Linked DNA regions of Homo sapiens: region 2 is linked to region 1. The links come from fine-mapping of genetic effects on gene expression. A gene starts in region 1. The other region holds a variant in brackets. All regions are shown on one strand. Distances are between the middles of the regions.

Region 1 (5,463 bases):
ACCAGATGTCAACGACAGGAAGCATTTCCAGAGGCCACAGCTCTGCAGGGAGGTCTCTCATGGGCTGACAGCCAGAGCCAGCGCTCCGGGTCCCCTGAAAAAACGGGCACAGTCCTCGGTCACGTCGAGGACCTGCTCAGCCCCTCCACTTGGCACCGGAGAGAGGATGACTCACGGCCCTTCTGCCTGGAAGGCAGGCTCCAGTGTCAAATGTCCATCCGCCTCCATCACCCTCATCCATCCTTGTCAGTCCAGGGGCCTGGGCACTGCTGGGGCTCCTGGGCAGACAGTTCCCCCTTGCAAATGAGTGGGACCCTCAGCTCCTTCGATCAGCATCCTCACGTCAGCCGAGCCTGTGAGCACCCCTAAGCAAGGCCTCTGAGCTGGGCATGCGACACCCCTTCCCACCCAGGCACCCTCCCCCTAGAATCCCCCATACCACCCTGGGGCCATGCCCCGCTTCCCTCTCTGGCAAGCTCCTGCACAACCTTGAGACCACCTGACAGCCACCGTCTATCCTGCCCAACCTCCTCAGAAGCACTAACAGCACCTCGCCCCAGCCACGGCAGGTCTCTGCACCCCTCGTCTCAGTCACCACTCTCACATCTCATGAACAGAGACACGAGCTGCTTCCTCATGCTCCCTGTGCCCGTCCTGGGAGATCCCTGCCTTTAAACCCCAGCCACGAACTGCTGACCCCGCATTTCCTCTTCCCTCCCTGGGCAAGAGGGGCAGAAGGGGCAGGGACGCACACCCTGGGCCGCAGGCAGAGGCTTGGCCAGGGTCGTCCTCCCGGCAGTGCCTCCCTGGAGCTCTGTCTACCTCAACTCCTGATGCCAGAGGATCCCTCTGCGCTCCCCACACCCTTAAGACCCCAGCTCAGGGAATCTGGTCTCGGTCATCACTCCCAGGGGACTGCAGGGCCCCAGGACGGCACACATTCAGGCCCAGGAGAGCTCCCCCCATCTCAAAGCCTCCTGTGGGTGGAGATGGAATGTGGAAAAACCGCATCCTCTGCAGCTCCCCCACAGTGAGAGCGAGGACTGAGGGTGTGGATAAGGCTCCAGGAAGGGGGTGCAAGCCTGAGAAGGTGGAAGAGCTCTGGGTGGGTCCATCTGCTCCTCACCTGCCCCAACCCTGCCTGCAGGTGAAGGCCGGTCCAGCCGCAGAAGGCCCAGCCCCCAGCCCACTTACAGAATCCGCACTGTGCTCCTCCAGCCGGCCCGGCCCCTCGCTGCCCACCGAGCCATCATGACCCCAGCACCGCTGCACATTCGTATTTGTTGAATGAATGAATGAACCCTTGCCAGCCCAGCCACTTGGTGGCTGAGGGCTTCAGAGCTCTCCCAGGGTCCCCTGGGGTCATTCAGCCACTCAACAGTTTCCCAGCAGCAGCAGCGAGGATCCGCACATCATTGCCAGTGCTCTAAGGAGCGGGCGAGCCCCAGTAAGCGGCCGCTCTGACCGCGCTTTGTCAGCCCTGAGCTCCGCTCGGGAGGAGCCGGCAGGTGTCTGCGGTGCTGGAAAGACCACGGTGTGGGCGGGGATTCCGATCCGCCGGCAAGGGTGGCCTGCACCCGGCCAGGCCCGCGGGTTTTCTCCTCTCCGGGGCTGGCCTCGGCCCCTCCCCCTCCCCGCGCCCCGCACCCCTCCCCTGAATCCCCAGGCCACGTGGAGAGGACACAACAAAGCCTTCCCCGCCTCCGAGGCGGACCCGACCCTCAGCACCGACCTGCCGGCCGCGCCGAGGAGGGCGCCCGGGCGGAGGGGAGGCGGGAGAGACCCGGCCCTCAGGTCGCTGCTGAGGCCTGGGGCTCTGACCCCCCGCCTCCCCTCCTCTGGCTCCCACCGCGGTCGGGCCCAGGGCGGGCGGCGGGCCCTGAGCTCCACGCCGGGGCAGGCGGCAGGCAGGGGTCACGGGCTGGGGCTCGGCGCGTACCCCGGGAGGGGCGCGGGTGCACTCACCACCCTCCAGCCGCGGGGGCGCGGGCGCGTCCGGGCCGAGGCAGCGTCTCCCAGGCGCGCGGACACGGTCGACTACCCGCTTCCTCCTTATGGCGCCCCGCGCGCTTCCTCCTTCGGCCCCCCACGCCCGGGCCCGCCCCGGCCCGCCCCGGCCCGCCCCCGGCGGCTTGCGGGGACCCGGGGAGCCCGCGCCGGCGCGGGGCTGTGGAGCGGGGCGGGGAGCCGGCAGCGCAGTGAGAACCAGGCTTTCCACCCTTACCCCTTACGCGACTGTTTCAGACAGTGTCGTCCAACTTTAAGTTGGCCACTTACTCCAGCGCCGCTGGGATAATTCCTAATGATTCTCTGGGAAACATTCAGAATCCCCAGGCTGTTTCTGGAACAGTCTGGGGTGGTCATTCTAGGTCCTCACGGAACCAGGGGTTTGGAAAGTGGGTGAAGCCATGTGGGTTGCAGAGAATCTGGCCCAGCCCCTCACCAGTCCCTGTGCTTGTTGTTTATTCTTTAATTATTTGGATATCAACTCTGATTTAAAACATCAGTTTAACATATAGATAATGCTGGGACTACAGGCGCACACCACACCCAACTAATTTCTTTTTCAGTTTTTAGTGGAGGTGGTGGGGGGGGGGTCTCCACCTCTGGAGGTCTCAGGCTGGTCTCGAACTCCTGGGCTCCAGCGATGCTTCCCACCTCGGCCTCCCAAGGTGCTGGAATGACAGGCCAGTCCATGCATCCCCGGATGCAGCTCTCACCGGCAGTGCTGCTGCAGAGCCCTTTGTGGGCGTCTTCACTTCTCTTGAGTGTGATACCTAGGAGTGGAAATGCGAATCATAGGGCTGGACGAGCTTCATGGTATTAAAAACTGCCTGCTTTCCAAGGTGATGCACACCGTTCGGCACTTCCACCAGCCCTGTTGGAGCGTCCAGTTGCTCTGCGCCCTCGCGTGGGCTCACTCCCTGAGCCCACTGTGGCTCCTCCAGACGCCCTCACTTCTACCCGGGCTCCCTAGACTCTTGCCTCTTTTATAAAAGGTCAGAGGATGTCACTCACGCTTTAACATCCTCTGAATAAAAGCCAAGTTCCTTTCAGTGGCCCGCAGAGTCCCACGCGACCTGCCCTGCTCTAAGCAAATCCTACCCTGTCCCTGTTCCTCCTCGGCAGCCCCATGGCCTCTGGCTTTCACCAGGCCTCACTTCATTTTCCTCCACAGCCAGCATCGCAGCATGACATACCACGGAGTCGTTTGTGTGTGTGTTGCCTACCTCCCCTCTCGGAATGTAGCCTCCACGAGGACAGGGGCTTGTTTCCTGCATGCTCTTCACTCGGGCTGGGCACTCTGGGGGGCTAACAAATGGAAGATCCTGTGAGCAGGGAAACCGTCAGATGGCATTAGGGGCCGGTGCCCTGCAGAAGACGAAAGGGAAACTTCATGGACTGAGGCCAGGTCATCTGCAGGGTGGTGTTCAAATTCATGGTACAATGTCAGCAGGCGCCCAGATGGGAAAAGAGAGGGACGTGCACCTGGGCACAAGAAGCTGCAGGGGCCCCTCCCAGGGCAGGCGAGAGCTTGGACAGTGGGGCACAGTGGGCAAGAGGCCAGTGGGGTGGCCTGAAGGCAGGAGGCTCCAGCAGCCTGGATGAGCAGTTGGATTTTATCCTCAGCACTGTGGGGGCCACTGGCCCTGTCATGCAGGGCAGGACCTGTACCAATTGGCCCCCACAGTCTCTGCCTCTCCTGTTGGCTTTTTGCAGGTCTCTCAAGTGCTTCTTACAGTCAGGGTAGAGCCTCCCCGCCTCAATCCTCCCTGTCCTGATCTGCTGCCTCTATGATGCTTTGGGCTTCAAAATCTGTCTGCAGTATTTGTAAAATGAGAGAGGGTGATGTTTCCTGCAAAACAACCACTTCAAAAAGAAAGGGGGGCGGGGTGCCAGAAAACAATTCAGGGGGTGACGGACTGGGGGGCTATGGAAGGGTCCAGGGAAATTCCGGGGATGATGGGATTCTTCTATACAGGGATTGTGGTGGATGCCACACAATTGTACACTTTTGTGAGAACTCTGCACGAAGAATGGTGAGTTTTACTGTATGTAAAATTATACCTTAATTAACAAATGAAACAATATACACATACATGAGAGAATGATGACTTTATTTTTTTTTTTGAAACAGGATCTAGCTCTGTCACCCATGCTGGAGTGCAGTGGTGTGATCACAGCTCACTGCAGCCTTGACCTCCCAGGCTCGAGTGATCCTCCTGCCTCAGCCTCCCAAGTATCTGGGACTGCAGGCATGCACCGCCACGCCTGGCTAATTTTTTAAAAATTTTTTTTAGACGGAGTCTGGCTGTGTCACCCATGCTGGAGTGCAATGGTGTGATTTCCGCTCACTGCAACTTCTGCCTCCCGGGTTCAAGTGATTCTCCAGCCTCAGCCTCCCAAGTAGCTGGGATTACAGGCACCCACCACCATGATTGGCTGGCTAATTTTTGTATTTTTAGTAGAGACGGGGTTTCACCATATTGGCCAGGCTGTTCTCGAACTCCTGACCTCAGGTGATCTGCCCGCCTCAGACTCCCAGAGTGCTGGGATTACAGGCGTGTGCCACCACACCTGGCCTTTTTTTTTTTTTTTTTTTTTTTTTTTTGGGACAGGGTCTTGCTATGTTCCCCAGGCTGGTCTTGAACTCCTGGGCTCAAGTAATCCTCCCACCTCGGCCTCCCAAAGTGCTGGGGTTACAGGCATGAACCACTGCACCCGACCTGAATGATGTTTTTGGCAATGAAAATGAAACACAAAATCCAGCAAGGTTTGACGGGGAAGGCGAGCTGGCGACCACATAGTCACAGTCGGCCTTTGCTTCCGCTTTATGCTGCAGTTTCTCACTGTCACTTCCTGCCACCGGGCTCGTCTTCCTGTGAAAATTCAGCCCCTCTTCCTCAGTTACCCCTTTGCAACAGAACGAGGCCGGCATTTTCTAAAGCGTCCTTGAGGAGTCCAGTTCCTAAAAGATTATTTCAGAGTCCACTGTTGTGGGCTGACTTGAATGCTCTCAAAATTCGTAAGTTGAAGCCCTGACCCCCAGGACCTCAGAACGTGACTGTGCTTGGACACAGGGACTTTCCAGAGGTGATTAAGGTGAAGTGAGGTCACTGGATGGCCCTCCTCCTATCTGACTGGTGTCCTGATGGGGACGCGGACACCCACACAGGAACGGACCCGGGGAGAACAACACATCGTCTCTGCGCCAGGGAGAGAGGCGTCCGGGGAACCCAGCCGTGCCCACGCATTTATCTCCGCCTTCCGGCTCAGAATTGTGAGGAAACCCGCTTCTGTTGTGCAAGTCCCGGGTCTGTGGTGCTCGGCCATGGCGCCCCCAGAACTGCATCCCCACCTTCTGCTCTGAGCCACCCATCCCCTCTGGAAGGGCTGAGCTTCTCTCCCTTTCCACCTTCTGTTCTGAGCCACCCGTCCCCTCCAGAAGGGCTGAGCTTCTCT
Region 2 (5,000 bases), 25 kb before region 1:
CATCCTGGCTAACACGGTGAAACCCCGTCTTTACTAAAATATAAAAAATTAGCCGGGCGTGGTGGTGGGCGCCTGTAGTCCCAGCTACTCGAGAGGCTGAGGCAGGAGAATGGCATGAACTTGGGAGGCGGAGCTGGCAGTGAGCGGAGATCACATCACTGCACTCCAGCCTGGGCGACAGAGCAAAACTGCGTCTCAAAAAAATAATAATAATAAGGCCGGGCACGGTGGCTCACGCCTGTAATCCCAGCACTTTGGGAGGCCCAGACGGGCGGATCACGAGGTCAGGAGATCGAGACCATCCTGGCTAACACGGTGAAACCCCGTCTTTACTAAGATACAAAAAATGAGCCGGGCGTGGTGGCGGGCGCCTGTAGTCCCAGCTACTCGGGAGGCTGAGGCAGGAGAATGGCCTGAACCCGGGAGGCGGAGCCTGCAGTGAGCGGAGATCGTGCCACTGCACTCCAGCCTGGGCGACACAGAGACTCAATCTCAAAAAAAAAAATAAAAATAAAAAATAGAAGTATCTACACAGAATTAAAGTTATGATGGGAAAAAAGGCTGAACCCTATAATTGAAAAGAAAGTTTCGGAGTGTTTCGCTGTGACCCCAGCTCTGTGGCCCTGGGCGGGCTGCCGTACTGCTGCCTCCGCTTCCTCACTCCGAAGGCAAGAAAGGGGAGTGGCGACGTCCACCCTCCCTCACTGAGGGGGCCGGGGAGAGGCGGGCGGGAGGGCAGGCGCCTCCTCCGGCGAGTCAGGGCGCTGCGCGGGTGACGGTGGTGTTCTACCTGCGGAGGCCGCCAGAGCGCGAAGCCGGAACAGCAGCGGCAGGTGGGAAGGGACAGTGGCACCCAGAGTGGTCTTTTGGACACTGACAACAAGCCTGGATCAGGGCCGGGGGAGCTCCTGCAATCTCCTCTGTTTATGTAACTAACATCAAACTCGAGCCACTGCCTCAGCCCTCCAGCCACCACGCTGAAATCCACACCGTCCCCACCTTTGGAAAGGACCCCCAGTAGGGGCAGCTTGAGAACCTCCTGGGTGCCGGGTGCTCTCCATGCTCAGGAACTGCGACACAGTCACTAAGTGCCAAGGCATTAGACTTCGCAGATGCCTTCCCAGAGGCTGCCAGGACAGCGTGAGGCGCCCAGAGGCTGCAGAATTCGGCAGGAGGGAGGGGAGGAGGATGTGATGCAGCGGGTGGGAGAGAGCACCCGTGTGCTGTGATTTTTCTCTCCCCAGACCATTTAAAGGGAAGGAGAGACAAGGAAGCATCCAGGGAGCGTCCTGCTGAAGGCGGGGGCTCCGGGCTCCCCTCCCAGAACTCCACCGCTTTTATCTTTATAAAGACGGGGTCTTACTATGTTGCCCAGGTTTGTCTCAATCAAACTCCTGGCTTCAAGCAATCCTCTCGCTTCTGCCTCCCAAGTCACTGGGATTATGTGCCTAAGCCACCTCGCCCAGCTATGAAGGGAAATTTAAATCCAGTGGGTTAAAAAATTTTTGAAACACCTTACAGTTTACAGTACTTTTATTTGACCTTTATTGATTTATTTGCTCCTCATAGCAATGGCATTGGTTAGACAAGGTAAGTATTGTCTTGCTTTTACAGTTGAGAGAATTATATGAAGTGCTTATCTAATGCCCCCTTTCTTCTTCTTAAATCTCTTTCGTGTTTGTTTGGACAGGGCTGCAGTGCAGTGGCACAATCACAGCTCACTGTAGCCTCGACCTCCTGGCCTCAAGGAATCCTCCTGCCTTGGCCTCCCAAAGTGCTGGGACCCACAGCCTATGGCTGTTAAATGGTCTTAAACCCAAAGCCCCCTCGCCCTTGCAGTTAGCCCCAGGCGCGGTGTGGAGGGGCTGCACCACAAGCGGAGTGCGAGGAAGGCGCAGGACAGGGAAAGGTAGGACTTCCCGGCTCCCGCCTGCTTCAGTGAAGGGGCTGGGCGGGGTTCGTCTGTGCCGAGCTGTGGTAAGGGCCAGGCGGGCTCAGCCTCAGCCCTCAGGGATGCGTGGTGGGGGACACGCAGGCCCTTACCCCTCGACCCCGCCCCCCACAAGGCACCCGCAGGGGATCTGGCCTCTGACCTCACAGTCCATGGCCTGGGCAGCGCGGCAGCTCCGACTCACTCCTGGTTCACAGTGTCCCAGTGGCGACCTGGAAAGGGACACACAGAGTGGGCGGCCGCTCCTGGGAAGCCCTGGTCAGGACCCCTCGGGAGGACGACGAAGCTGGCCTGTGCTCCAGAAATGGCGGCTGAGCCGAGGTCCTGGCCTGAGCCCCGCATCCTGAGTTTCTTTCTCCTTGGCGGGAGCCAAGCTTTGTTTTCCTCATTCCAGATACTCACCCAGGCGCTCAGTGCCCTGGGGCCGACCCCGCACCTGAATTCAGCCCTCCCATGCCGCCCCAGGAAGACCTCAGGCATCAGGGAAACGGGGCCGTGGGCTCACAAATTATTTTATTATCATAAAATGTAAAATGTTTATAGAGAGAGAGAATGGATTTGACAATTAAAAAATTAAATCTTCCGGCTGGACGCAGTAGCTCATGCCTGTAATCCCAGCACTTTGGGAGGCCGAGGCGGGTGGATCATGAGGTCAGGAGATCGAGACCACCCTGGCTAA[T/C]GCGGTGAAACCCTGTCTCTACTAAAAATACAAAAAATTAGCCGGGCGTGGTGGCGGGCGCCTGTAGTCCCAGCTACTCGGGAGGCTGAGGCAGGAGAATGGCATGAACTTGGGAGGGAGAGGTTGCAGTAAGCCGAGATCACGCCACTGCACTCCAGCCTGGGCGACAGAGCGAGACTCCATCTCAAAAAGAATGACCAGTCTGGCCAACATGGTGAAACCCCATCTCTACAAAAATACAAAATTAGCCAGGTGTGGTGATGCAAGCCCTGTGGGCCCAGCTACTTGGGGGGCTGAAGCAGGAGGATCACTTACACCCAGGAGGTGGAGGCTGCAGTGAGCGGAGATTGCACCACTGCACTCCAGCCTGGGCGAGAGTGAAACCCTGTCTCGAAAAAAAAAAAAGATCTGTGCGGCATCAGTACAGTAAGCTGTCTTAAAAAGACTGAGGCCGGGCGCGGTGGCTCACGCCTGTAATCCCAGCACTTTGGGAGGCCGAGGCGGGTGGATCATGAGGTCAGGAGATCGAGACCATCCTGGCTAACAAGGTGAAACCCCGTCTCTACTAAAAATACAAAAAATTAGCCGGGCGCGGTGGCGGGCGCCTGTAGTCCCAGCTACTCGGGAGGCTGAGGCAGGAGAATGGCGTGAACCCGGGAAGCGGAGCTTGCAGTGAGCCGAGATTGCGCCACTGCAGTCCGCAGTCCGACCTGGGCGACAGAGCGAGACTCCGTCTCAAAAAAAAAAAAAAAGACTGAACACAAATTTCTACAGAACACTGTGAATAGAATAATCCTGTTTTAAAAAGTATTTGCCTGTGTGTGTGTGTGTGTGCGTGTGTGTGTGTAGACACAATATCAGGTTGAACCAAATGAAATGGCCATTTTGTAGGACAAAACCAAGCATTGGCAATTTCACATGGTTCCTGAATACATAGGAAATAAAAAGCAAACAGAGGAGAAAGCCTGTGCCCAGGCAGAGAGGAGGTGGCAGGAGGTAGCACTGACATGCGCATCACCCACCTCCCCACCTGGGGGCTCACACAGGCCTGGGGACCCTGCACTGTTGCAGGCTGCACCCTACTCTCCCTCTGGGGAGCCCAGGAGAAACCCTGGCTGTGTGTGGCCGTGCATTTCATAGGAAGGGACCAAGAGCAAATGACTGAGCTGCATGTGGACAGGGAGGCACCAGGATCTGGCTCCGGGGCCATCTGCCGGCTCCACAGCAGAGGAAGGGGAGTCTGCACCCACAAGAGACAAAGCGCAAGACAGACCCCACCCCAGGAAACAGGCCACAGAGGCCACGGCACCTCCCAGGGCCACTGCCCAGTCCACAGAACAGTGGACCAGACCCTAGCTTCTGCCTCAAGGTCTGGAATCCCCGCCCCTCACCACTTTGTTCTCCAAGGAACAACTTCAGGGGTCTCTGTGGGGAAAGTGCCCACTGTCACCTCTGAGCTCGGGAGGCAGCTCACAAAAACCAGCTTCCTTCACACTCAGATACACGCCCATGTCACAAGCAAACTGCAGCCACCTTGGCACTGTGGTGAGTCTCCCACCAGACCCTAACGCCGTGTCTCATGCAGTGTTTCTCTGCCAGGGCGACTTGGATACCCAGGAAATATCTGGAGCTGTCTGGAGACATTTATGGGGGGTGTGCTCCTGGCACGTAGCGGGTAGCAGTGGGGGCACGGCTCATCAGCTCAAACCCACAACTCATCCAGCTCAAAGTGTCACTAGTGCTCAGGGCCGAAGTCCCATACCAGTGTGTTCAAATACATAGCAAATACCACTAACCCATACCAGTGTCATATGCATGGCAGAATACCCACTAATCCAAACTGGTGTGTCACATACACAGCAGAATACCACTGACCCATACCGATGTTGTCACATCATGGAGGAATACCACTAACCCATGCTGGTGTGTCACATACACAGTGAATACCACTAACCCCAGTGTTGGGCATGTGAATAGCTTAGCATTGTCACCACTAAAGACAGGGCTGTGATGAGTACCCCAATGGGACATTTTTTTTTTTTGAGACGGAGTCTCACTGTGTCGCCCAGGCTGGAGTGCAGTGGCATGATCTTGGCTCACTGCATGCTCCACTTCCCGGGTTCCAGGGATTCTTCTGCCTCAGCCTCCCGAGTAGCTGGGACTACAGGTGCCCGCCACCACGCCCAGCTAACTTTTTGTATTTTTCGTACAGACGGGGTTTCACCGTGTTAGCCAGGATGGTCTGGATCTCCTGACCTCGTGATCCGCCCGTCTTGGCCTCCCGAAGTGCTGGGATTACAGGCATGAGCCACCGCGCCCAGTCTTTTTTTTTTTTTTTTTTTTGAGATGGAGTCTCGCTCTGTCACCCAG

Evidence for each region. PIP is the estimated chance that this variant, and not a neighbour inherited with it, causes the effect. A credible set is the group of variants that fine-mapping cannot tell apart.
Region 2: its variant is the best candidate, but not a certain one, in a credible set for the expression of BID in prostate (GTEx, PIP 0.69).

The regions. Positions count from the first base shown.
Region 1 is chr22:17,772,416-17,777,878 of GRCh38, forward strand. BID (BH3 interacting domain death agonist) reads right to left here and starts at 2,054. Exons shown (of 6, transcript NM_001196.4): 1 at 1,966-2,054. It overlaps LINC00528 (long intergenic non-protein coding RNA 528), which reads left to right and starts at 4,875. Exons shown (of 1, transcript NR_103718.1): 1 at 4,875-5,463. RefSeq lists silencers at 1,563-1,892, 1,923-1,992, 2,013-2,062, 2,083-2,182 and an enhancer at 4,910-5,389.
Region 2 is chr22:17,748,012-17,753,011 of GRCh38, forward strand. BID (BH3 interacting domain death agonist) reads right to left here. Exons shown (of 6, transcript NM_001196.4): 2 at 2,094-2,163. The coding sequence starts at 2,105. Among named protein-coding and RNA genes, the nearest start is that of MIR3198-1, 14 kb to the right of the region's middle. RefSeq lists an enhancer at 2,164-2,708. The variant T/C (reference allele first, on the strand shown) is at 2,631.